4 linked regions of the Homo sapiens genome follow. The protein of the gene in region 3 interacts with the protein of the main gene of each other region in a pairwise test. Each region holds a gene or a part of one and is shown on either strand. Other genes may lie near its edges. The genes, in order: SLC38A7, CD302, OPRM1 and TMBIM6.

The links.
Region 1: the proteins of OPRM1 (region 3) and SLC38A7 interact in binary tests that used the Homo sapiens proteins (3 or more experiments, as listed by UniProt).
Region 2: the proteins of OPRM1 (region 3) and CD302 interact in binary tests that used the Homo sapiens proteins (3 or more experiments, as listed by UniProt).
Region 4: the proteins of OPRM1 (region 3) and TMBIM6 interact in binary tests that used the Homo sapiens proteins (3 or more experiments, as listed by UniProt).

Annotation. Positions count from the first base shown.
Region 1 is NC_000016.10:58,664,573-58,667,770, forward strand, and holds the end of SLC38A7 (sodium-coupled neutral amino acid transporter 7), read right to left. Parts: intron 2,916-3,198; coding exon 2,813-2,915; coding exon of another isoform or gene 2,734-2,812; 3' UTR 537-2,733; downstream 1-536. UniProt on the Homo sapiens protein: Symporter that selectively cotransports sodium ions and amino acids, such as L-glutamine and L-asparagine from the lysosome into the cytoplasm and may participates in mTORC1 activation. The transport activity requires an acidic lysosomal lumen.
Region 2 is NC_000002.12:159,795,189-159,802,701, forward strand, and holds the start of CD302 (CD302 antigen isoform 1 precursor), read right to left. Parts: upstream 3,021-7,513; 5' UTR 3,011-3,020; coding exon 2,944-3,010; intron 2,765-2,943; exon of another isoform or gene 2-2,764; intron 1-1.
Region 3 is NC_000006.12:154,034,981-154,042,264, forward strand, and holds the start of OPRM1 (mu-type opioid receptor), read left to right. Parts: upstream 1-4,325; 5' UTR 4,326-4,378; coding exon of another isoform or gene 4,379-4,564; coding exon 4,565-4,854; intron 4,855-7,284. UniProt on the Homo sapiens protein: Receptor for endogenous opioids such as beta-endorphin and endomorphin. Receptor for natural and synthetic opioids including morphine, heroin, DAMGO, fentanyl, etorphine, buprenorphin and methadone.
Region 4 is NC_000012.12:49,751,524-49,758,559, reverse strand, and holds part of TMBIM6 (bax inhibitor 1), read right to left. Parts: intron 6,097-7,036; coding exon of another isoform or gene 6,067-6,096; coding exon 6,011-6,066; intron 5,588-6,010; coding exon 5,479-5,587; intron 2,926-5,478; coding exon 2,805-2,925; intron 334-2,804; coding exon 285-333; intron 178-284; coding exon 80-177; intron 1-79. UniProt on the Homo sapiens protein: Endoplasmic reticulum (ER)-resident protein that confers cellular protection as an anti-apoptotic protein by limiting multiple stress-inducing pathways surrounding the endoplasmic reticulum and mitochondria.

The sequences.
Region 1 (3,198 bases), on a different chromosome or scaffold from region 3:
ACTTGTCTCGCACTTCTGACCTCAGGTGATCTGCCCACCCTGTTCTCCCAAAGTGCTGGGATTACAGACGTGAGCCACTACACCTGGCCTTTGCTGGTTTTCTTGCCAGCACTGAGCGTGGTGACTGGTGGCTCCATAACCAAGACAGCTGGGACCTGCTCAACGCTCGCCTCTGAAAAGATGGGGGTGGATACTCAGGAGTTTAAAGCTCTTGCCAAGATCTGAAGTCAGGGGGACAGTCTGAGACCACAAAGGCACAGGAAAGACAGTGAGGGCTTAAGTGAAGGCAGAGGTCGCAGGATTGGAGACTGCGATACATTCCTAAGTCACTGGAGAAGGATAGGTAGAATGTGGAAGAAAGCAGGGGTGGCAAGAGCCACTTGCAGGTCCCTGCTTGGTAGAGGGAGCATGGCGGTGCCATTCCGGAGATAGGGGTCAGAGACAGTGACATGCCATCTACACCTCCTACCCCAGCCCTTCTTCCTCCTGGCAGTGGCCTGGACTCTGTCCCCAGGATCAGACACAGGGGACACGGCTCAGCAGCACAAATCCCTTTTATTAACCATCTTCCCTTTCTCGAGTATACACAAGTAGAAAAGAAACAGTGAAGTACCCCGATAGGGAGGGTGGGGAGAGGATGGGAGGGGGCTCCTGAGGTTAGGACAAGAGGCCAGATTCCAGCTCCTTCTCCTGACTGGTCTGTCTCTGTGCAATGACTCCACTTACATCCCTTGACCCCCGAAACACGGCACTGGGGGACTGCAGCCCTGCTGACCAGGCTGTCCTCCTAGCCCTGTCAGGGACTGGTGCTGGCAGAGCTTGGTGCTGTGCCACAGACTGACAGAAAACAGCACAGTGGGTCTGGCCCCGGGGGCAGAGAAGATCAGGCACCAAGAGGGGATGTGAGAAAAGGCAGTTTATCCATCTGGGGACTGGACAGAGGCCCAGCCAGCCTCCAACCAGCTTCTGCTTCTTAGATCGGACTGCCCTGAGTGGCGGGCGGCTCGGCAGGGGGTCCCTCTCGTACCCTTTACAGAGGTTTTGGGGAAGAGGGGACAAGGAAATGCTAGGGGCTCCAGGTGGAGGAGGAAGTCTGATTGGTGCCTGGGATTGGCCAAAGTGAGAGGGGGCAGCTGAGGGGCTGAGGTGGTCAAAACGGGAATATAGTGGGGAGTAGGGTGGGAGGTGGGGAGATAGCCTATCTCTTCGCCCTCTCTGGGGTAACAATTCCAGTGTGACATCAATGTGGCTGGCCACTGAGGCCAGGCCTGATGGACGTGCGTTGCTGAGGAGGCTGGTAAGAGAGCCCCCACTGTCCCCAATTATGTGCGTGGGAGAGACTGAGCTACACAGTGAAGTGAGATGGGAGGTGAAGAGGTAACGGGGTGAGGGGGAAGGAAGGAGCAGACAAAATCCAGACTGGAAGGGAAACTTCCAGGCCAGTGTGGCAGGCTCAAATGCTGCCCATCAGTGACAACCCAGCTGCCTTTTTGTTTGTTTCTGTTTTTTTGAGATGAAGTTTCACTCTTGTTGCCCAAGCTGGAGTGCAATGGCACGATCTCAGCTCATTGCAGTCTCTGCCTCCTGGGTTTAAGCGGCTCTGCTGCCTCAGCCTCCCAAGTAGCTGGGATTACAGGTGCCCGCCACCATGCCCGGTTAATTTTTTGTATTTTTAGTAGAGATGGGGTTTTGCCGTGTTGGCCAGGCTGGTCTCGAACTCCTGACCTCAAGTCATCTGCCCGCCTTGGCCTCCCAAAGTGCTGGGATTACAGGCGTGAGCCACTGCGCCCAGCCCTGCCTTTTTTTTTTTTTTTTTTTTTTGTCTCTGGGTAGTCACGCTAGGGCTGGCAGGGGAGGAGGCAGAGGAAAGGCAGGAAGAAGAGAAAACATCACTGAAAAAGAAGGTGTCGGGGAGGTACACCCTGATTCTGACCAGCCCAGCCCACACAGAGGGTCTGAAAGGTTCTCAGCCTTCTCCATCACCCACCCTGCGGCCTCTGAAAAGAGGGGCCCATCTCAGACACAAAAGCAGATACTCCCAACCTTATGGGGAAAGCTAACGGAGGAATACTCACAGCACCGTGGCACGGGACGGCCCTTGGCTTCAGAGCCGGGCTGGCACCGTTTGTAAACATTAGACCTGGTGATGTCTGGGGATGGAGGAGGAGAGGGATGCCCAGCCTGGACCATCAGGTTTGATGAAAGAGACAGGGTGGGGCCCCTCAAGGCCTGGGAAATGTCTATTAGCTATGGGAAAGAGGCTGACAGGTTCATGGTGGGGGTTGCCCAGGAAGGTGTGGACAAGGTCTGAATCTACCTGACTATGCATTTGCATGACTTCAGTGCTACCGTTGGAAGTGGCCAGGCTCCTGAGGAAGCTACCACTGGCCTGGGGTAATGAGCACAACCCCTACTCAGGACAGGGTGCTCTGTGGAGGATGGTGGCCTTCTGTCCATAGTCATTCTCCAGAGGGAAGTCAGACTGGATTCTTTCTTATGAGATCTACCGACTCTCTTCACCCGTGGATTCCAGGCATGGAGAAGTTGAGAACTGGGAGAGGAGGAGGGGTCCTCTATGATGTGAGACTTCCTGCCGCCATCCACGGCACTGCCAGGACTGGGGAGCAGGAAGGGGACTGGATTTGAGCTGTCCAGAGGTGTGGGGCCTGAGTTTGCCCCAGTCCCTGGAAGAGGATGTCCGGATGTCATCCCACCAGTTGGAATGATCGTGGACTAAGAATGGCCCCATAGCTCTAAGAGATGGGTTCCTGCGACCAATGGCAAAGGCCTTGTGTTCCCTGGGAGGCAGTGGTTATGCCAAGAGATCCACAAAGATGGCGTTGGCTGTGGTCTGGCCGAAGATGAAGGCTCCCAGGGTGACCAAGAGGACTCCGTAGCTGACCAGCACCCACCAGCTGTAGAACAGAGGGTGAGAGAGGTCTGATCAGTCATCCCATCCCATGACTGCAGACTTCAATATATATAACTGTTAATTACTGTAATTATCGCACTTCTCCTGTTGGTAGAGCACTTCCTACTTCCCAAAGACTTCAATACAAAGGTAGTGTGGGGCCAGGTGTATTGTCCCTAGTCCATAGGTAAGAAGACCAAGATCTAATGGGAGTAACTGATTGTTCACATCATGCCACGATTCGAATGTAGGCATCCTGATGGAAAGATGTTCAGAAAAAAGCACGT
Region 2 (7,513 bases), on a different chromosome or scaffold from region 3:
CTCCAGCCTGGGTGACAGAGTGAGACTCCATCTCGGAAAAAAAAAAAAAGAAAGAAAGAAAAGGTGGCAGCAATAGATTAAGATGATTTAAGGCTTTGAATTCATTATGAAATGAGTGCATAGCAGAGGTAATATAATTTGAAAAAAATTGCAATCCACTTATCCTACCTACTTTTTAAATAACTCACCTAAATTTTTTCATCCTTTTATTATAACTTAGAATAAAGTGCAGAGACACAAATCAAAACAAAACAAAAATCCACAAGATGGTAAAATCTCTGTTATGGAGCTTCTTTCCCCTGGTAAGAGAAGCAACAAGCAAGACAGATGAATAAACACAATGCATTCAGAAAGGCTTGGAAAAGATAAAACATGGACATGTGACAGAGAATGTGGGTGTTCAGGGAGGCTTCGGAGAAGGTGACATATGAACAGAGATCTGAATGGTGGAGGTGGGGGCAGCCATGCCAAGGACTGGGGGAAGGTGGTGTGCACAGAAGGACCAGAGGTGTTGGAGTACCCAGATACTGTTTACTCTGTGGATACACAGAGTGAATGGCAGGAAGGGTGGTAAGAGATGACATCAGGGAAGAAGGCAGAGGCACCTCATCTAAGGCTTGTAGGACATGGCAATTCAAAATCCCTAGATTCTGATCCACATGATGATCACAGAATGAGGACTTACTCGGAACATGCTTGTTCACTCAGCTCATGCCAGGCATAGGAAACCACTGACCAAATAAATACATACTGATCATCTATTATGTGCTTAAGCACCCTTACGGAAAAACTTTTTAAAGCGATGCCATGGATTTTCACTCAGGAATTTAAAGAATGTTTTGTCCACTGTGATTTTCAAAATAATAGCTAAGAACAAGGTTAAGATCACTTCACTAATAACCTCCAGAATGACAGACAATAACAATGATTTCCGTTTCAACATCACATTTATATGCAATACCCATATTTATTATGCAACATCATAAGAGCTTTTCTATTAAGATCTTGGTATTCAGCAACAAACTCTTTCTTGACTTAGTTCTAAGCCAAATATGACCCCTGATCTTGCTTGGATGGGAGATTTGTAAAGTATTATGAAAAACACACTTAGTTTTTCAGCCCTATAACATTAGCATACATATGAATGTGTTCAGTAACCATAAACATCCAATATACATAAGGTGGTATTCATACGTTTTCTGGTTGCAACAATTACCCTTCATTTTGTATGAAGAGAATAAAGGGAAGGAAACCAAGATGAACCACGCCTGTAATAGGGACTAGACGTGGAGTTCCCACTTAATGCTCCCAATAGCCCCATGAGTAAGTATTATCTCTGTTTTACTGAAGTGCAGATAAGTTGGTTAACTAGCTAGGTCAAAGCTCACACTCATTTCCAAATTAATCCTTAAAGCTTCCTGACTGGGAGGAGCTGATTAATTAACATTAATTTATTCATCATGCACTTTTCTAAAGCTCTTGAAAAGCCTATTGATCCACACTGGACTTATCAAAGGAAATGCACAAAAATTTCCAAAGGGAAATTTGCCCTCTATTGCTGGTCAAAACAGCTTCACTGAAGAAGAGACATACCAAAATCTAGAAACTGATTTTCTTTAAAAGTCTGACAAGAAAGAAAAATCTGACAAGAAAATTCGACTAGCCTAAAGTACAAATGCACAGCCTCGCAGAGGGTGGTTTACATGAGAGTTGAGATGTTACTGGCTCGCAAAATGAGGGTGTGCAGAAGGAGGGTTCAGAGACAGCCCAGCTTTGTCTTAGACAAAATTAATGTTCCCAGTCTGAACAATGTGAACATGGGCACATCTTGTTTCTGCCCCTTTGATAGGCAGCAGATGTCACAACCAGTCATAAATGCAGGTCCACAGAAGTTTTCAAGAAAGGAACCTTGGGTTTGTATCCAAGTTCTGAGCTGCTGCTGCCTCCAACACTGAGGTCCACTGAAATATTCCTGTCAGTAGACTTCGAGCAGGCAGTTATTATAAAAACGCAGTGAAATCTGGGGCAAGGGGTGGGGGGGGGGAATCTCTTGCATTTTATTTAAATCTCTTGCACTTTATTTAAGCCCACACAAGTACTCATTTAGTTCTTGTTTATTTTGCTCTTTAATTCCTGGAATTATTCAGTCAGTGGTGTTTTTGGAAGTCTGTGTTCTCCAGAGTCTCCCCATCCACATATTTTTGACATGCTTGTATGGAAATTTTTTAAAAATAAAGACCACGGTCAATAGAATTGTGCATTTTCCTCACGAGTCGTTTTGTAAATGAATGATCACGTGTGTGATTTTTCAGATGTCACTTGCACAACAGCAGACTAGAACTTTAAAACTCCTTGATTTCAGTGAAATCCAAGCTTTGCCTATTCCCGTTCCTCTTCCATCCAGGGGTTATTTGGCTGAACTGTTTTCCTGTTTAAACAACTTGAACACCAACCAACTAGACAAACAGCGCTGCTTGCAAAAGAGGGCCTACTTCCTCCGGCCCCCACCCCCATCCCAGCAACCCCACTCCGGCCGCGCACCAGCAGGGGAAATCGCCACCAACGTCCCCGCTTCTCATTTCAGCCCGAAATTGCCCTGAAACGGCGCCCGTCGTGCGACTCCAAGTCCCTCAGTTCTCCGGCCAACTGGCCTAATTTGGGGGTTCCCTCCCCGCGGAGTGGGGTCTGCGGTGAGGATGTGGACTCCGAGGAAGACAGAGCCCTCCCTTATTCTCGGCCACCTCCCCTCCCCGAGGGCAGGCGGGTGAGAGGTGACCCGGAGCCAGGACCCACGGGGGACGGGCGTGCAGGGAAGGGCGGGATGGCCGGCCGGGTGTTGCGTCTGCGGGCCGCCCTCGGGTGCGCGGGGACGAAGAGCGTGCGTTGGGAAGGGGGCGAAGGCGGTCGCGCACGGTCCCGGCGAGGGACTACGTAAGGGCTTACCCGCGACGGCAGCAGCGGCGAGGCCCAGCAACGGCAGCAGGAGCGCGGGCAGCGCGGCCCGGAGCATGACGGCGGGTGCGGGTGGGCGGCAGCGGCTGCGCGGCCGGAGAGGAGCGGGGCGGGGCGGGAGCGGGGGCGGTGCTTCTCGCGTGCGAGTTTAATCCCCCCCCCGGGCGGAACGTGAACGGCACTGGGGGCTCCCACCAGGAGAACCCGGGTGTCCCGTCCCGCAGGAGCGGCTGGCGCGCGGCCTTCTGGAACTTCTAATTTTTGTTTTTTAAACTTTTCATTTGAATTGAAATAATTTAGGACTTTCGAAAATGTTGCAAAAACAGCACAAGAGATTTCCGTAACCCTTCAGCCAGCTTCTCTAAATATTGACATTGTATATAACGCCAGTGCAGTGATCAAACACAGGGCACTCGCACTGGGATAATGCGATTAGCTAATCTACAGCACTTACCACATTTCATTAATTGCCCCTCTAAGGGTCCTTTTCTGTTCCAAGATTCAATCCAGGATCATACATTGCATGTCGTGTCTCCTTAGTCTCCCTTTAATCTAGGACGGTTCTCTGTCATTCTTTTTCTTTCACGATCAAACCACATTTAAAAAGTACTGGCCAGTCGTTTTGTAGAATGTCCCTCAGTTTCATTTTGTCTGACATTTCCTTCTAATTGGATTCAGGTTGCGCTTTTTTGGGAAAGAGTTCCCCAGAAGTGATGTACGTGCTCGAGAAGGACAAGATGTCGATGTCTCATCACTGATGTTAACTTGGATCAGTTGGTTAAGGTGGCGTTTGCCAGCCTTCTTCTTTGGATCTACTGGCCAGAATCCTCCTTTTCAAAGACCCCTTTCAGTGGACTATGTCTCTTAGACAACTTTTCTCTGTTACCAGCTCCTGGATGAAGAGTCTTTAAGCTATGTTTGCTACAATGTATGCATAAACTGTGCAATTATACTTCACCCATGAGGGCCTCTGGACAACACTAGCCAGGGTCAAGCAAGGGTGCTTGTTTAAGCCTCATGTCATTGGCAAAAGAGTTCTATAAAATCAAGTCTAAACTCAACAACGTGAAAACAAATGACCCAGTTAAAAAAAATGGTCAGATGATCTGAATACACACGTCATCAAAGAAGTTATATAATGGCAAATAGATGAAAAGATGCTCAACATCATATGTCATTGCTGAATTGTATATGAAAACAAAAATGAAATACCACTACATACCTATTAGATACCAGAATCCAAAAACACTGACAAGACCACATGCTGGCAAAGATGTGGAGCAAAAAGAACTCTCATTCAATGCTGGTGCAAATGCAAAATGGTACAGCCACTTTGGAAGACAATTTGGAAGCTTCTTCCAAAACTAAACGTACTCTTACCATACCATCTAGCAATCACAACTCCTTGGTATTTATCCAAATGAGTTAAAAACTTACATACACACAAAAACCTGCACATGAATGTTGATAGCAGCTTTATTCATAATTGCCAGAACCTAGAGGCAAACAAGATGTCCTTCAATAAGTGAATGGATAAACAATGGCACATCCAAACAATGAAATGTTACTCAGTACCAAAATTAAATGAGCTATCAAGCCACAAAAAGACATGGAAGAACTTTAAATATGTATTGCTAAGAGAAAGAAGCCAATCTGAAAAGACTGCATACTATATGATTCCAACTATATGACATTTTAGACAAGGCAAAACTATGGAGACAGTAAAAAGATAAATGGTTGCCAGGGGTTGGGGTGGGAAGAAGGAGGGGATGAATAGATGGAACACAGAGGATTTTTAGAGCCATGAAATTATTCTGTAGGATACTGTAATGGTAGATGTGTATCACTATACATGTGTCAAAACCCATAGAATGCACAAAACGAAGATGAACCCTAGTGTGGACAATGGACTTTAGTTAATAATGTGTCAATATTGGCTCATCCACTGTAACAAATGTACCTGCTAATGCAAGATGTTAATAATTGGGGAAACTGGGGTATGTGTAAGGAGGTACATGGGAGCTCTGTACCTTCTGCTACATTTTTTGTATACATCTAAAACTGCTCAAAAATTAGTCTATTTTTAAAAAAATAAAATCTGACCCTTTCCAACTCTTTCTAACCCTTTCCACACTTCTGATAATCCAGAGTGGTTACACCAAGGAAATTTGACCCAAGGGGTCTATAAGGAGAGTCATAGAGTGTTAGAAGTGGTACTAGTAAGGAAATTGAGTGACCCAAAGAAGGGATGTGATTCCCCCGTGGGCTCACAGAGAATGCCAACAAATGAACCAGAGCCCAGCTCCTCTGCTGGACTCTCCCACCTATTCCAGGTTCTGCCCCTTTGCCAAAGTATTAAGGTCTTGCTTAACTTATTTACTTCCATTTTTCTTCTCAGGCTGCCAATACTGAGTTTATTATATACCAAACTCCAGACCAGAGCAAATCCTTCCAAAGATACTCTATATTGGAATATTGACACATCTTGATTCTGGACCCTTTTGCCCTCCTAACTACAGAAGTAAAATGAACAGTTCTAAGCAATCATGTAATTGTGAAAGTTATCTCTTCCACCCCCACCTCAGGCACCAAAGTATATTTTATCAATGTGGTTTTGTGTTAAGCTACTTTTCAAATATTTTTATATTTACAATAGAATTGACATCCTAATGAATCAATCTAATTAAGGCAAAACCCATTTTAACACTGTCATTTTAAGTCATTTGTACTAAAGAAAATTATATTATTTTATTGTTAACTCTGGTGCACACTGCCTCATTTTTGATGCTAATCTGATGAAATAGACTACTTATTGCCTGTATGTGGGTACTGTTATATTTCGCTCTCCCATTTACTCTCCAGTTACACCTCATACCCTTAATTTTCCTTCACTCTGTCTCCAACTTACATCCTCTTTTGGCTCATGCCAGACTTCAGTCCCTTGCCTGCATTTTTCTCAGCCTTTTATTTCTCCCTTCTCCACCCAGCCGAAATACCACATCCTCTGTCCCCTTGTTCCCCTGGTGTGCTCACCTGGCCAACTCGGAATCTGTGGTCTCCGCTTTCTTCTTCATGCTTTTTTTTTTTTTTAGACGGAGTCTCACTCTGTCCCCCAGGCTGGAGTGCAGTCGCGCTATCTCAGCTCACCTCAACCTCCACTTTATAGGTTCAAGCAATTCTCCTGCCTCAGCCTCCCGAGTAGCTAGGATTACAGGCGTGTATCACCACACCTGGCTAAGTTTTTTCTATTTTTAGTAGAGGTGGGGTTTCACCATGTTGGCCAGGCTGGTCTTGAACTCCTGACCTCAAGTGATCTGCCCGCCTTGGCCTCCCAAAGTGCTGGGATTACAGGCATGAGCCACCTCGCCTGGCCCGTGCTCTCTTTTTCCTCAACTTTACTGAAGTTAACTGAGGACAGGTGGAGGAAATCAATCAGTTCTCCCGATGGCTGTCACTATAAACAATATGGCTTTTAATTTCATCTGGGCCTTCTATGCCTCTTCTGCAATCCTTGTATTTGATTTTACCTTAGTCACTGTCCTCTCCTATTTCTCTCATTGAGTCTTTCAAATTTATTACTCTTTTCAAGCTAAGATCCCAGGCTGGGTATGGTGGCTCACACCTGTAATCCCAACACTTGGGAGGCTGAAGTGGGAGGATCACTTGAGCCCAGGAGTTTGAGAGCAGCCTAGGTAACATTGAAATCACCTGTCTCTAGGGAAAAAAAAAAGTTAATGTTGGAGGTCGAGACTGCAGTGAGCTAGAGTTGCACCACTGCATTCCAGCCTGGGCAACTGAGACAGACCCTGTCTCTAAAAAATTAAAAAACTTTTTAAAAGACCCCATCTGCTACCCATCTTTCTCAGCAGACCTTGCCTTCTAGTACACAAGAAAACAGGTGCCATTACATATAGACAAACATCTTCAAATGCTTATCTGCAGTTCTTCTCTTGTGGTCTCAGAGAGGAAGGCATGCTTCTCCAGCCCACCCAAACCAGTTCCTCTTTCTGCTTAGGACTGCCCCTCTCATTTTATCTTCTCCAAGATCTTCCATTAATGATTCCCTCTCCCCACTGCATCATCAACTTCTCTCTGTCCATTATTTTTGTTTTTGTTTTTGTTTTTTTCATCTCAGCTTCTAAACTTGTGAACCTCTTTCTCTCCCCTTTAGAAAAAAACCCTTTTTCAACCCTTCTTTCCCCTCTGGCTATGGCCCAGCCCCTTTCCTTTCTGTCTCCATCATACTTCTCGAAATCTCATGTTCCTCATCTCCTAATTTCCCTTTCAATTTTTTTTTTTTTTTTTTTTTTTTTTTTGAGACAGAGTCTTGCTCTGTCACCCAGGCTGGAATGCAATGGTACGATCTCAGCTCACTGCAGCCTCTGCCTCCTGGGTTCAAGAGAGTCTCCCGCCTCAGCTTCCCAAGTAGCTGGGATTACAAGCATGCACCACCACACCGGGCTAATTTTTTTTTTTTTTTTTTTTTTTTTTTGTATTTTTAGTAGAGATGGGGTTTCACCATTTGGCCAGGCTGGTCTCAAACTCCTGACCTCAGGTGATC
Region 3 (7,284 bases):
TTATTTATAATAATTCTTCTTGCTAATTTCTAGGCCACATACAACAGGATATAAAAAGCCAAACAACAAAGGATAAATTCTTTCATATGTGTGTAATCCTATAAACCCTCTTTGAAGTTGATTCTCATATTTTTATTTTACAGAAAAGGAAACCAAATATCAGGAAGTATAAGTAATTTAGTAAGTCACAAGGAAGTAAATAGTTGAGACTGGATTTTGAACTGCTTTTTTTTTAATCAAAAGTCCGGGGCTTTCATCCACTTTATTCTAGATGGCTTTGTTTTAGGTTTATTGGGTAGAAGTTGGTGTGAGGAGTTTTTTGCTTTCATTTACTTATTTATTTTTTTACCATGCAAATAAAGAGTGCCTATTCCATTTTACTTGATATGTATGCAACAATCCAGTGATCAAGGATAATATTGTATCACAATGCATTTGCATTCTCATTAGCTATGCCCATTTAAAAGTTAGATAACATAGAAAATATCTATAAACAAATACATAAAATGTTCCTCCAATGAAACCTTGGATGTCCCATTTTTCTGAGCTTCAAACCACTGTAATTGTTTCCTGCATAGTATTTATGTTTGTGTTCCTCATTAATAGCCATTAATCATGTGTTCCATTAACAGCCACTCTCAACAGAATCAGGACTAAGCTATTAAAGTAAGTGTAGGATGAAGGCAATTCTATGAATAACTAAGCCAATAGATGTTGAAATTCAAAGAAGAGAAGTGACTTTTAGCACTTTCCTGGGATTCATCCGTGCTATGAATAAATACGTTGCTTTGAAACAAATAATTTTTGTGAAAAATGTTGCATGATATGGGTTTGATAGCAATGTTCAATCTAAATGTATAGATAATAAATTATTCTTGCTTCGAATAGAAAGCCTGGGCTAAGCAAGAAGCATCAACAAAAAGACAGATATTTCTATTGTACAAATTACATATTAAGGCTCAATGAAATAAAAGATATATTTGGGATCAATACTGTATGAAATAATTATGTTTGTAATAAATTGACTCATTTATTTGCAGTCCATCTCCTTTTATGAGAGACTTGAACTTTCACAACAGACTTCAGACCAATTGAGTAGGAAATGAACAATTATGGAGGAAACAGGGAATATACCATAGGGAAACTCTGAAATAACAAAAACTTGAAATTGAGGTGCTTTTATACTACATATTAAGTGGTATTAATTTATTATTTCTGGAACAGTTTTTCTCTAGGTTTCTCAAGACTGTCAATATATTTGAAAGAAAATTAAATTTGTTCTGCAGCTTCCTGAATTGTATATTAAATGGGTGGAAGATACCAAGATATAAATGTTAAACAACTTAAGGAAGGACATGCAATGATAACCAGAATATTCTATATTCAAAATAGAAGGATAATAACTATCCTCACTGAAAGATGATAAAGACCAATAGAAAACAAAAAAATCAATCTCAGCTGAGAATATGAAGCACAAAGTTCAAGTCCTGCTCTAGAGAGTAATTGCATTTTTCTATAAAACAGAATAAAAAAACAACTGTTTCTAGAAAAGGGCAATGGGAATGGGGTTGCTCTTTGCCTGTAATTCTAGAAGAAAAGGCATATGGCTAGTCCATAAGTCTATACATTTAAGTCCTGGTTGGTTGACAGACTATATTGAGTCAAAAAGGACAAAACGTCTTCATTAAGGTTTTCCCATAAAGATGTTTTATTTTCAAACTGTGTCATTAAAAAAATCACCCAGATTGTTTTATTTTTATTTTATATTATTTATCACCCAGATTGCATATATTTTATGCCATTATCTGGGTATAATGGCATAAAATATATGCTAATCATTTTTTCAACTGAATTCAAATATTATGCACATTAATATTCATATATGTTTAATATAGAAAGAAACACAGAGAGTGAGGGAGGGAGTCCACTATGTATTAAGTACTGTGTTAGTGAGCAGACCTCCCTTAGGAACCTTATTACGGAGTACAAAGCTAGGAGAGTAAATAAAGTATATTAAAAAATGCATACAAAAGATGACAGAATCACCATTCCAAAAGATCTTGGTGGATAAGAATCATGAATTGGATCTAACAAGATGTAACTTAAAAGTAAAAAAATCTATAGTGTTGTACTGAGCTCCCTCCAAAGCAACTATAAATTTATAGGAGATGAAACATATGATTCACCAGGCATAAGAAGAAAGTTTCCGTAATCAAACACTATTGTATCCATCTTTTTAAACTCCAGCTCCTATCACAGCACCTGGTCCAAAGCAGATCTTTAGTATTTGTGGAACTGGCTTGGATTGTGTTTAGGAAATTTTGTCATTGGTAAACCTAAGGAGAGTCAAGAGAACAACGTGACCAAAAAATAAAACTAAAAAAAAAAAAAAGGGACTTTCATTGTACTGGTAGAAAGACAAAGTTTATAATCTGGCTTAGTTTCTTTTTTTGTTGTTGTTTGTTTTTTGGTCAGGGCAAATTTAGGTCATTATTTTTAACACTGGAACTGTAGTTTCAGAGCAGATAGACAAACTATAATGAGAATAGATGAACAGCAAGGCCACTGAAAGGACTCAGAACTACATCTTATAAGAAACAACTGAATGATGCTAATGTTTAACTTGCAAAAGAGAAAACTCAGTTGATTTCAAATATATGAAATATAGTGGTAAGGAGTTATCACTTATTAAGCAATTACTATTGCAATGTATACTCATTTAATCCTGCTAACAGACATATGAGGTGAATATTATTAGCCTACCCTCGCCTTTTTTAAGTAATGAGAAGACTGTCATCCTGTAGGGTAAAGTAACATGTCCAAACTCATACAGCTACAAAGTTACAAAGCTGATTTATAAAATGATTGACTCCAAGGTCAGGAATTATTATACTGTGTCTTGTCTTCCACATGAACTAAGCACAAAGGAACTGAATGCAGGCAGACAGATTTCAGCTCAATATAAGAGAATTGTTACATTAGTTCATGGAAGAATATGTTTTAAGGTATTTTTGTTAGTCTCTAGGAAATCTCTGTAACATTTTATTGTGTAAATTATATGCTTTAATGTAAGAGGATAAAAATAATAGTGAACATTGGCAAAATAGCCTATGATTAATAGAGTTTACCTATGAGTTATCTGTTTCTAAGATAAATGCCAAAAAATAATATTGGAATTAAATGTTCCTTTCAAGATCTTCCCTCCCTGCTCCCTGAAATTGCAGTGAATTTTTCAAGACCAACTGAGGACATGTATTTTCAATGTTTATGGTTAAAAGATATGTACATGCACAGATATATACATGTACAGAAATGAGAATTACTTCAGAATTGGTGTTAACTTTAGAAAAAAAAAGACCAAGAACTTACTCTTGGTATTTACAAATTTATTTCTAAAATAGAAGCACTCATGGACTTAGAAGTAAGGTATAAAATTCAAAAACGTATCCATGTTTCTCAAGGATCTTGTTGTAGGCCACTCTAATTCCATATATTATGTGGCTTTTCCTAGAATTTTTACACTAGAAAACAGACTGAATGCAAATTTTGTTTTGTTTTAACAACCTTCTTCTCAGAAGCATATGTCTATCGAGGAAGTCTTCAGATAAAAAAGATAAACAATTCCAAACAGGTCTATGAGATTTAAGATGTGAAAGATCAACATTATCTTTAGTTGACTTTACTGGATGCCACAACCTTCTGATTTCTGTAACCACTTCTTATGCCTCCTACCCACTGAAACAAAATCAGAGGCAAACAGAGCTTCACCCTAGAAATTGGGGAAAATGAGGAACAGGTTTTCTGCACAAAAGTTTATTTGTTTCTCATTTCTTTTTCAGAAAATAAAGGATCGCTGTTGTTCCCAACAGGTTTGTAGGGAAGAAAATTGGAGAAACATTATTACCTTTTCTTAGATGTTGGCAACGGAGGCAACAAGGACTGCAAAAGAAAATTGTGTGTCCCCCATTCCTAAATAATCAAAATTGGCAGTAGGGATGGAAGAGCATTGGGGTTTTAGGGCTGTTAGGGTTTCATCAAGCCAATGTATTCCCTGCCAGATTTTAAGGAGAAAAAGGCGCTGGAAAATTGAGTGATGTTAGCCCCCTTTCTTATTTTTCACTGCTACCAAAGACTAACTCTATCTCTCTCCCCAACCCTTCTCTCCATCTCCCTCCTTTAGATGTGTTTGCACAGAAGAGTGCCCAGTGAAGAGACCTACTCCTTGGATCGCTTTGCGCAAAATCCACCCCTTTTCCCTCCTCCCTCCCTTCCAGCCTCCGAATCCCGCATGGCCCACGCTCCCCTCCTGCAGCGGTGCGGGGCAGGTGATGAGCCTCTGTGAACTACTAAGGTGGGAGGGGGCTATACGCAGAGGAGAATGTCAGATGCTCAGCTCGGTCCCCTCCGCCTGACGCTCCTCTCTGTCTCAGCCAGGACTGGTTTCTGTAAGAAACAGCAGGAGCTGTGGCAGCGGCGAAAGGAAGCGGCTGAGGCGCTTGGAACCCGAAAAGTCTCGGTGCTCCTGGCTACCTCGCACAGCGGTGCCCGCCCGGCCGTCAGTACCATGGACAGCAGCGCTGCCCCCACGAACGCCAGCAATTGCACTGATGCCTTGGCGTACTCAAGTTGCTCCCCAGCACCCAGCCCCGGTTCCTGGGTCAACTTGTCCCACTTAGATGGCAACCTGTCCGACCCATGCGGTCCGAACCGCACCGACCTGGGCGGGAGAGACAGCCTGTGCCCTCCGACCGGCAGTCCCTCCATGATCACGGCCATCACGATCATGGCCCTCTACTCCATCGTGTGCGTGGTGGGGCTCTTCGGAAACTTCCTGGTCATGTATGTGATTGTCAGGTAAGGAAAGCGCCAGGGCTCCGAGCGGAGGGTTCAGCGGCTTAAGGGGGTACAAAGAGACACCTAACTCCCAAGGCTCAATGTTGGGCGGGAGGATGAAAGAGGGGAGGTAAACTGGGGGGACTCTGGAGGAGACCACGGACAGTGATTGTTATTTCTATGAGAAAACCTACTTTTCTGTTTTTTCTTCAACTGATAAAGAAAGAATTCAAAATTTCAGGAGCAGAGAAGTTGCTTTGGTAAAAGCTACAAATGTCTAGGGGTGGGGGGCGGAGGGAAGCTATAGCATAGACTTGGAGCGCTTCCTTATACTGAGCAAAGAGGGCTCTTGGCAGAGTCCTACACTCAGTCCCTCTGCAGGAGCTATGGAAAGAGTAAGTTGTGAATAATGGGAGAGAAATTCTAGTTAGCTTTCCCAAATTTGGTTGGGGCCGGTGTGTGTGTGTGTGGCGGGGGGAGCAGTCTCAAGTCTTCTCAATTGTTTTGAGATGGACCTTGGCAACTTTCCTACTCCTGCTGGTTTAGTACTTCCCTGTACCACAACCCCACCCTTTCTTCTCCCCTGCCATAGCAGCCCTTACCCAACTCTTCCTTTCATCCTGAGGCAACACTAGGTAGAGGAAGTTTTCCTAGCATCTCTCCATGACAGTTTTCCTCTGTTATAACAAACATGACAAATGTGTTGCCTAGACCAGTTTGCCGTTAGTAGCTTCAGATCGCCTAAGTCACAAACTGCATCTGGAATGGGTAGGTTGGTTCAGGAGAACCGCAGGACATGGCTGTATTTCATTGCCTTCACAAGTTGGAGCTAATTAGGAGTGACCAAAAGCATCATAATTCCACATTAGAAACTGCAGAAACTCTTATACAGGAAGTTGTGATGGGTGCTCTAGACAAAGTGTTCTTATCAAGTAAAATTAATTCAAAAGAGTTGTAGTCCACTTTCTGTTTACCCAGATGTTCCCGGTATATTTGGCAGAGTGTGGAAGCTCTCAGTATTGACTGAGATTGATATTGATTGTGTTGGTGTTGATGTGTATATTCAAATACTACATGTGAATGTGAAATGCCATATATCTGTTTTTGTTAAAGAAGATAAATATTTTAACACTTTAAAATAGTTCCTAATTCGAGGGTTTTTTTTTTTAACCAGGGGTATGTGTATATAGGGAACATGGCATTTTCATATTTAGTTACAATGTTTGTTTCACCTATTCAGCAAGTATTGCAGGTTTCAGCGGAGCTCTTAAATCATTTAAGAATTGCTCTCTCCAGTATGCTTTCATTACCCAGGTGCTGCAAATTGCTTATAAGCAATTCTTTCTACTCATCTGTCTGATTTCTTTAATTAATGATTTTTAAAGAGTAAAGCTAATTTCCCTGATCTTTTGATGAGGAATAAGATAAGTATTGTCTGTAAGAAAAGAGCACCATCTATTGAGAGGAAGGCTAACAACAGAAGGAAAAATGCAAGAAGATCGATGGAAGTATTTATTTTTAAAAACATTTACTTTAAGTAATTCAATACAATGATTCACATTGAAGATTAAAAACCAAGTTTAATTTTGCAGTTATGACAATAAAAGTTATAATTAAAGGCCTGTTTTGTGAAGGGAAAATATGTTTCTCATTTTTTCTAAAAGAAATTCATAGAATCATAAACTAATCAAGCTAGAAGGGACTCTAGAGATTATCTATGCTAAGTAAATAAACTGAGGCACAGAAAATGTAAATTATTTTCTCTAAGAACAGATAGTTCATTAATTCAGTGCCACTAAATCTCTCCTAGCTAACATATTTTTTTTTTTTATTGTGCTGGCAAATCATGATTTGAGTTAATTCGACTATTAGGTTGACAGAGTGGGTTGATATAGCAATAATAACTTGGGAATAACAAATTATCCCCAAATTCTATGTGAAATCCTGAAGGAAAAAAGCATGAAACAAAAATACCAAAGCATCTAGGAATCCTGCCATCTGAAACATAATATTTTATTCCCTTTTATTGCTTCTTGATATTTTCCTTCCTCATTTTTCTACCCTTTAGTTTATGCTTTGCAATACAGAGAGAGCCAATAGAGTGGCAACTGGCTGTGAAATGAGCAGATTGGTCTTATTCCAGTGTAGAAGAGGTTGCTGGTTGGGTGAGTTAGTTTTAAAGGCATTACCTCTGGCCTCTTGTTGACTTGGAGAAACATGGTGACGGTGCATCTTACTGAGAACATGTTATTATGCTTTATTCTCGGTACTGAAAGTTCTTACAAAATGCAGTACTATTTGAAAGGTCATCCCAAACACCCACCTGTGGCAGGCTGGGTTTTAATCGCAGGGTTAGGTAACCCTCTTGGAATGTGACTGTGAAACAGAAAAATGGGCAAGTTAGTGACAGATGAAGCGACAGGGAAAGCATCTGGGGACTGAAGCAAGTAT
Region 4 (7,036 bases), on a different chromosome or scaffold from region 3:
TTAGGGGTAAGGAAGGAGTACTAGTGAGAATTCTGGCTAAAAAGGAGCCCCCATTCCCTGTTTCCCAGTTCACACTTACCTCCCAGAAAGAGGTAGCTACGGCGCCTGGCATAGAGTGCACTGAGGGTGAAGCAGGTAAAGATCATTGCCGTGCCCATGAAAGCAGTGGGAAGGATGCTGTTAGAAAAAAAGACCATTAGATTAAGGGCTACAGGTATACGGTCTACATTTAGAAGGTATATTCATAAAGATAAAAGCACATAAGACACTACCAAAAGAGTTACCTGGGGTTGACAGCAATACAAAACTCCAGGGCAGGGCCCAGGCCAACTCCTAGAAAACAGAAAACCCAGAACACAGTATTACGATCAATTCTTGAATAGGATCCTCATCCAAAAGCTGATCCCGAAATATAGGCATACTCATGCTCTTAACAAACGTGGACTAAAGAATTAAATCTCTCTCCCCTCCGCTGTAATTGTTTTCAATAAAATGTATACCTGACTGCGTTGTTTTTTTTTTTTTTATAGAAATAGCTGCAAAATTGTCCTCTTAGCTGAAAATCATGGATGACCTCAGGGAGGGTACAGAGATTACAAGAAAATAAAGTAGGCATGCCAAACATTTCAGAGCTAGAGTGATGTAAGATGGTAATATAGGCCAGATCAGGAATTAGAAAAAAAGGATAAAGAGCAAAACAGTGCCTCGTGGCCAGCAACCTTATAGTCATGTAGGACTGACTCCCCTTTGTAGCAAAGAAAGGTGAGACTGGTTCTGCAGGTGGACACCTGCCAACAGGAGGGCAACCTGTTCCAGCTCTAACATTTCTTTCGTTCTAATTACTTTCCTCTTTCCTTCTGATAATTCCACCCCTTAATGCCTTCAAAAACTAGCTTGCCCTGATGCAAAAATTTTAATCCCTAAATCTCTTCCTTTCTAAAATTTCTCCTACGTATATTAGACTGTCACTCAGAACAAGCTGTTCTAATTCAAATGTTTTGCAAACATTTTTATTACATAGCTTGAGTCTTGTTTCCTTTATGACAATTCTAGAAGAGCTGTGCCTTTCTTTTTTTGAGAATCAGCAAAGTGTCCTGCACAATAGATCTCAATGTATAGCTTTAATGCACTGTCTGTAAGACTCAGAACAGAAGCTCCTATGATAATTGCCAGTATGGGTGCAACTATGTCGGATTCTCAAGTCTAGTTTATTAAAAGTTCTATGCCTACTATTAATAGGTTATGCTACCTAAGCTCTTGAACCTCATTCATTCAAGTACACAATGGCTATTTTTGGACACAAAAGTAGAGTCACAGTGGCTACTCACAGAGTTTCCCCTAATGGATGGGGAAACAAAATGAACCTATATGAGATTAGAAAGCAGGCCAGGAAGGCCAGGCACAGTGGCTCACGTCTGTAATCCCAGCACTTTGGGAGGCTGAGGCAGGTAGATTACCTGAGGTCAGGAGTTCGAGACCAGTCTGACCAACATGGTGAAACCCCGTCTCTACTAAAATACAAAATTAGGGCCAGGGGCAGTGGCTCATGCCTGTAATCCCAGCACTTTGGGAGGCCGAGGTGGGCGGATCACGAGGTCAGGAGTTCGAGACCAGCCTGGCCAACATAGTGGCCCATCTCTACTAAAAATACAAAAGATTAGCTGGCGTGGTGGTTGATGCCTATAATCCCAGCTATTCGGGAGGCTGAGGCAGGAGAATCGCTTGAACCTGGGAGGTGGAGGCTGCAGTGAGCCAAGATCGTGCCACTGCACTCCAGCCTGGGCAACAAGAGTGAAACTCAGTCTCAAAAAAAAAAACAAAAAAACAAAAAAAAGCGCTGGGTGTGGTGGCTCATGCCTGTAATCCCAGCATTTTGGGAGGCTGAGGCGAGCAGATCACGAGGTCAGGAGATCAAGACCATCCTGGCCAACATGGTGAAACCCCGTCTCTACTAAAATACAAAAAATTAGCCGCTGTAGTCCCAGCTACTTGGGAGGCTGAGGAAGGGGAATCGCTTGAACCTGGGAGGCAGAGATTGCAATGAGCTGAGATCTCGCCACTGCACTCCAGCCTGGCCACAGGGTGAGACTCCATCTTAAAAAAAAAAAAAAAAAAAAAAGCCAGGAGGCAGGGTACTATGGCTCACGCCTGTCATCCTAACACTTTGGGAGGCTAAGGTGGGTGGATCACTAGGTCAAGAGATCAACACCATCCTGGCCAACATGGTAAAACCCCATCTCTACTAAAAATACAAAAATTAGCCGGGCATGGTGGCACATGCCTGTAATCCCAGCTATTTGGGAGGCTGAGGCAGGAGAATCGCTTGAACCCGGAAGGCAGAGTTTGCAGTGAGCCAAGATCACGCCACTGCACTCTCTAGCCTGGGTGACAGACGGAGACACTGTCTCAAAAAAAAAGGAAAAAAAGGGCCAGGCACGGTGGCTCATGCCTGTAATCCTAGCATTTTAGGAGGCCGAGACGGGCGGATCATGAGGTCAGGAGATCAAGACCATCCTGGCTAACACGATGAAACCCCGTCTCTACTAAAAATGCAAAATATTAGCCGGGTGTGGTGGCAGGTGCCTGTGGTCCCACCTACACGGGAGGCTAAAGCAGAAGAATGGTGTGAACCTGGGAGGCGGAGCTTGCAGTGAGCCAAGATCAAGCCACTGCACTCTGGCCTGGGCAACAGAGCGAGACTCTGTCTCAAAAAAAAAAAAAAGAAAAAAAAAGGGGGGGGAACTAATTAAGAGATACTGAAAATATAGCTCACCCCTCAAAATTAGACAAATCCCTTAACGTACCTGTAAGGAATGCAAATCCAGCAAGAAGTCCCAGTCTTTTCTGTTCAGTTTCATGGCTATGAGGTGTTGCCATCAGCCAAATCATCAATATCAGGGAGCCCAAGGCAGACAGCAGGCCAGCCTGTTAGAGTCAGAATCAATCAATCATTAAACACTTGAAAGTTTCAAATTTATTTTGCAAGAGACCTTTATTGGGTTCAAACACTCGTCTGAACTTCCTAACATTTGCTTATAACCTGGAGGCAGGAGAAAAAGTAGTGTTTTCTCAGGGATGGGGCTGAGGAGATAACCCAGAAGCCTTGAAGCACAGAGTTAGGACCATGGTGGATGCTGGAGGCTCTTCTGGCTTGCGTAGTCCTTCAACTACAGTACAACTACCCAAGTCAAACTATGAGTGAGTCTTGCCCAAAAAATAGAAAGGATGAATGAAACGTGACAAGTGCTTAAAGTACATTCCATCTGTAGAACAAATAGAAATGATCCCCCTTTGGTCACTTTAAAAAAAACATGGTGGCTCACGCCTGTAATCCCAGCACTTTGGGAGGCCGAGGTGGGCAAATCACCTGAGATCAGGAGTTCGAGACCAGCCTGACCAACATGGAGAAACCCCGTCTCTACTAAAAATACAAAATTAGCCAGGCATGGTGGCACACGCCTGTAATCCCAGCTACTCAGGAGGCTGAGGCAAGAGAATTGCTTGAACCCAGGGAGGCAGAGGTTGCAGTAAGCCAAGATCACGCCATTGCACTTCAGCCTGGGCAACAAGAGTGAAACTCCGTCTCAAAAAAACAAAAACCAACAAACAAAACCCCCAAACACCAAAACACCAAGACACATACATATACAGAAGACTGCAAAGTACTAAAATGTTAACAGTAGTTATTTCTGGATGATGGGATTATGGAAGTTTCTAAAATACTTCCTTCTCATTGCTAGTCTGTTTTCTGAATTTTCTAAAATGAACACATATTAGCTTTGTAGTAAGAAAAAAGTGTTTCTTTTTTTAAAAACGCCAAGTGGGAAAAACTATAGGCATTAGAAAAAAGAGAAATCATTAAGGATGGACGTAGACACTGAAGTTCCTTCCTTCCTTTAAAGGAAGAAGTTGATTCTCATTATTCAGTGTTTATGTTATAAAATCACAGTGGACAATGAATTAGTAAACCCTTGTTCCTGAGGGAAATAAAAGGTAGGTAGGTTCCTGCAAGCCTAAGGTCACAACATTTTCATCAAATGATCAATAGATACCTTGCTTTTATATGTGTTTCTGTTTAAGGACACCTCATTTGACATTATTTTTGATTCCTTAACATTGAACTCACAGTTACAACAGCAGTACAACTCATGCCGGAATGAAGCTTATCTAATATACACATTTTCTTCATAAGGCACATTACGGTCTTTCTGCACTCAGGAATACTAGACAGCACTTCAGCACTATGCTGTTTGCATTCTGAACAGCAAAATTAAGCCAAGCATGGTGGCATGTGCTTGTATTCCCAGCTACTTGGGAGGCTGAGGTGCGAGGATCAATTGAGCCCAGGAGTTTGAGACCAGTCAGGACGACACCACAAGACCTCCACTCAAAAAACCCAGCAAAATCACCAATTAAAAGCACAAAAATACAAAGGAAGTGGCACTAAATGACCATGAAAAGAACATTTGTTTACAATACGAGAACTGAAACAAGAAGGCAGAGCACTGTCTTGTTCAACCTCAGCTGAAAACACTGCAACAGCAGGGTGACTCAACTTTTTCACCACTCTGTGACTGTCTGCAAAAAGTGCCATGAGTAACAGAGCGAGACTCTGTCTCAAAAAAAAAAAAAAAAGTGCCATGAGTATTGATTTTGGGGTTACAAATTTTAATGAGTAGGTGAATTCACAAATATAGAGTCTGTGAATAACAAGGATTGACTGTATTTTACTAAATTATTTAAGGGCTAACCTTGCCTAAAACTCAAGCGATCAAAGCCCTATCCTTTGAGTGTCTAAAGTAATTTTTCACACAATCCCTGCCAGGAGATGCCTGAACATAAGGATAGTTCTCAACAGTGGCAAATGCCAACAGAGGCCCACCTCTACATTTATGCTAAAAGGAATACTCTACAAAGGCACAAGACTATGTTAGGGAGTCTTCAAACTTTCTGGTTATTCCTCAAACTGTACCTTCTACTCCTGCTGACCAAACCCAGATTCTCTCTCAATACAGGAAAACAAATTGTTGAAGGTTTTTACCCAACCATGCAGACAACAGTTATCGGAAAATAAAACAGGTCAATTCCTTAAAAAGATCTCAATCCTGCCTCTCCTGATAGTTAATCACACAATCAGAGTTTTGTAAAGGAAGAATGGAGGAAAAGATAAAAAAGCTTCTGTGCCAAAGAATCCCAGCATGCATGCCATGCGCCTACTCAGTGGGTGGGGGTCTTGTACGTCAGCAGCACACCATTCAGTGCCAAGGTTAAGGCATTCTGTTTTTCGGTATCTAGAGGGGGCACAGTTGCCAGAAAATTAAAATGGCTTTACATGTCCTGATTTAATGTCTGAGTTTAAATCCTAAACTACTGATAAAGATTAAAGAGAGGAACAGGGTCCCTTGGACCACCTTGCTGAGCTGGTTTTTTCCTAATGTAATTTGTACCACAGCAACCAGGAGAGAAAATCGTTCTTACCTGAATGAAATGAGTGACCATATGGACATAGGCCCCTGCAGCCGCCACAAACATACAAAGGGCAAAACTTGCATAGACCTTCTTCAGGTGCTGCTGCGTTGACGGGGTTCTAAGAAAAGAATGTGAATAAGAGCAATCAGTCCCAGATCAATCTCATATTTAAGCTAAGAAGAATCATTTCTCTCTTTCCCTTCCTGGGAATATGTAAAAGTTCTGTTACAAATAGTTTGAAATACTTTTAGGAAAGCATATTACAATAAAAAATAATATTTTGAAAATAGGTTAACAGAACCTTAAATGCTGAGGAAGACCAAATGCCCAAAATTATGAATAATCAGTACCCAAACTAGAATAAATGCCTTTCCAATAACCACACAGCAACGTGTAGAATTTGGACATTTTCATCAGGTCCTCTGGATTCTGGCCAAGTTAATTTGTTAGCTTATACACACAAAAGTTATAAATGCAGAAAAGGGACAAAGAGATATGAAAAGAAATGCAGTACAAAACCAGTCAAGGTCAAAACACTTACATATGAGAAAATTTTAAAAGCGCATCAAAGTTGATCTTTCGATCAAATATGTTCATGGTTCCAGAGTCCGTGCAGCAGTCTCCACTCTGCAGAATAAAGAAAGGTTAGAGTCATTAAGTCATACAGAATCACACGAACAGCTTATAAAAAAAAAAAAAAGCAACATGTAAGTTCAGAAAGATGAAAACTTGCCTAAAATTCTACAGCCCTAACACAACCATTTTTATTTTTATGTGTCCTACAATATATTTGCAATCATAGTCAACCATCTTAAAGACGACAGAGGAATTGAATGCATCTTCTTCTCCCTCAAACTATTTTGTTACTATCATCTGATTTCTATTCTTTCAGGTGATTTGCCACTTTAAAAGGCAGTAAGTTTATAAAAGAAATTCTCAATTAACAATCTAGTTAAAGGAACCTAGACATTGGCACATAAAGCAATTTTATGTCATTGTTTCAAGATGCTAAAGAATTCCCTTGGCTGGGCATAGTGGCTCACTGAGGCCTATAATCCCAGCACTTCTGAGAGGCTGAGGTGGGCGGATCACCTGAGGTCAGGAGTTCGAGACCAGCCTGGCCAACATGGTGAAACCCTGTCTCTACTAAAAATACAAAAATTAGCTGGGTGTGTTGGCACACACCTGTAATCCCAGCTACTCAGGAGCCTAAGACAGAAGAATTGCTTGAACCTGGGAGGCAGAGGCTGCAGTGAGCCAAGACACGCCACTGCACTCCAGCCTGGGCAACAGGGCAAGAGTCCATCTCAAAAAAAAAAAAAAAAAAAAAAATTATCTCACTAGCAGCACCTCAAAGATAAAAAACAAAACTTTGACTAGTCTTAACAAAACAAACAAAAACTATAAAGCTGGGTCTGGCATTAAGACTTGCATTTTAAATATATGCGTATCAAATTTTCTTAACCTAACACATTTAAGAACTGAACTGAAAAGGACTCACAATTTTAAAAAAAGAGAGGTTCCTACCTCCATAAAAAAGGAATTTATGCAGAAAGGAGGATTTTTT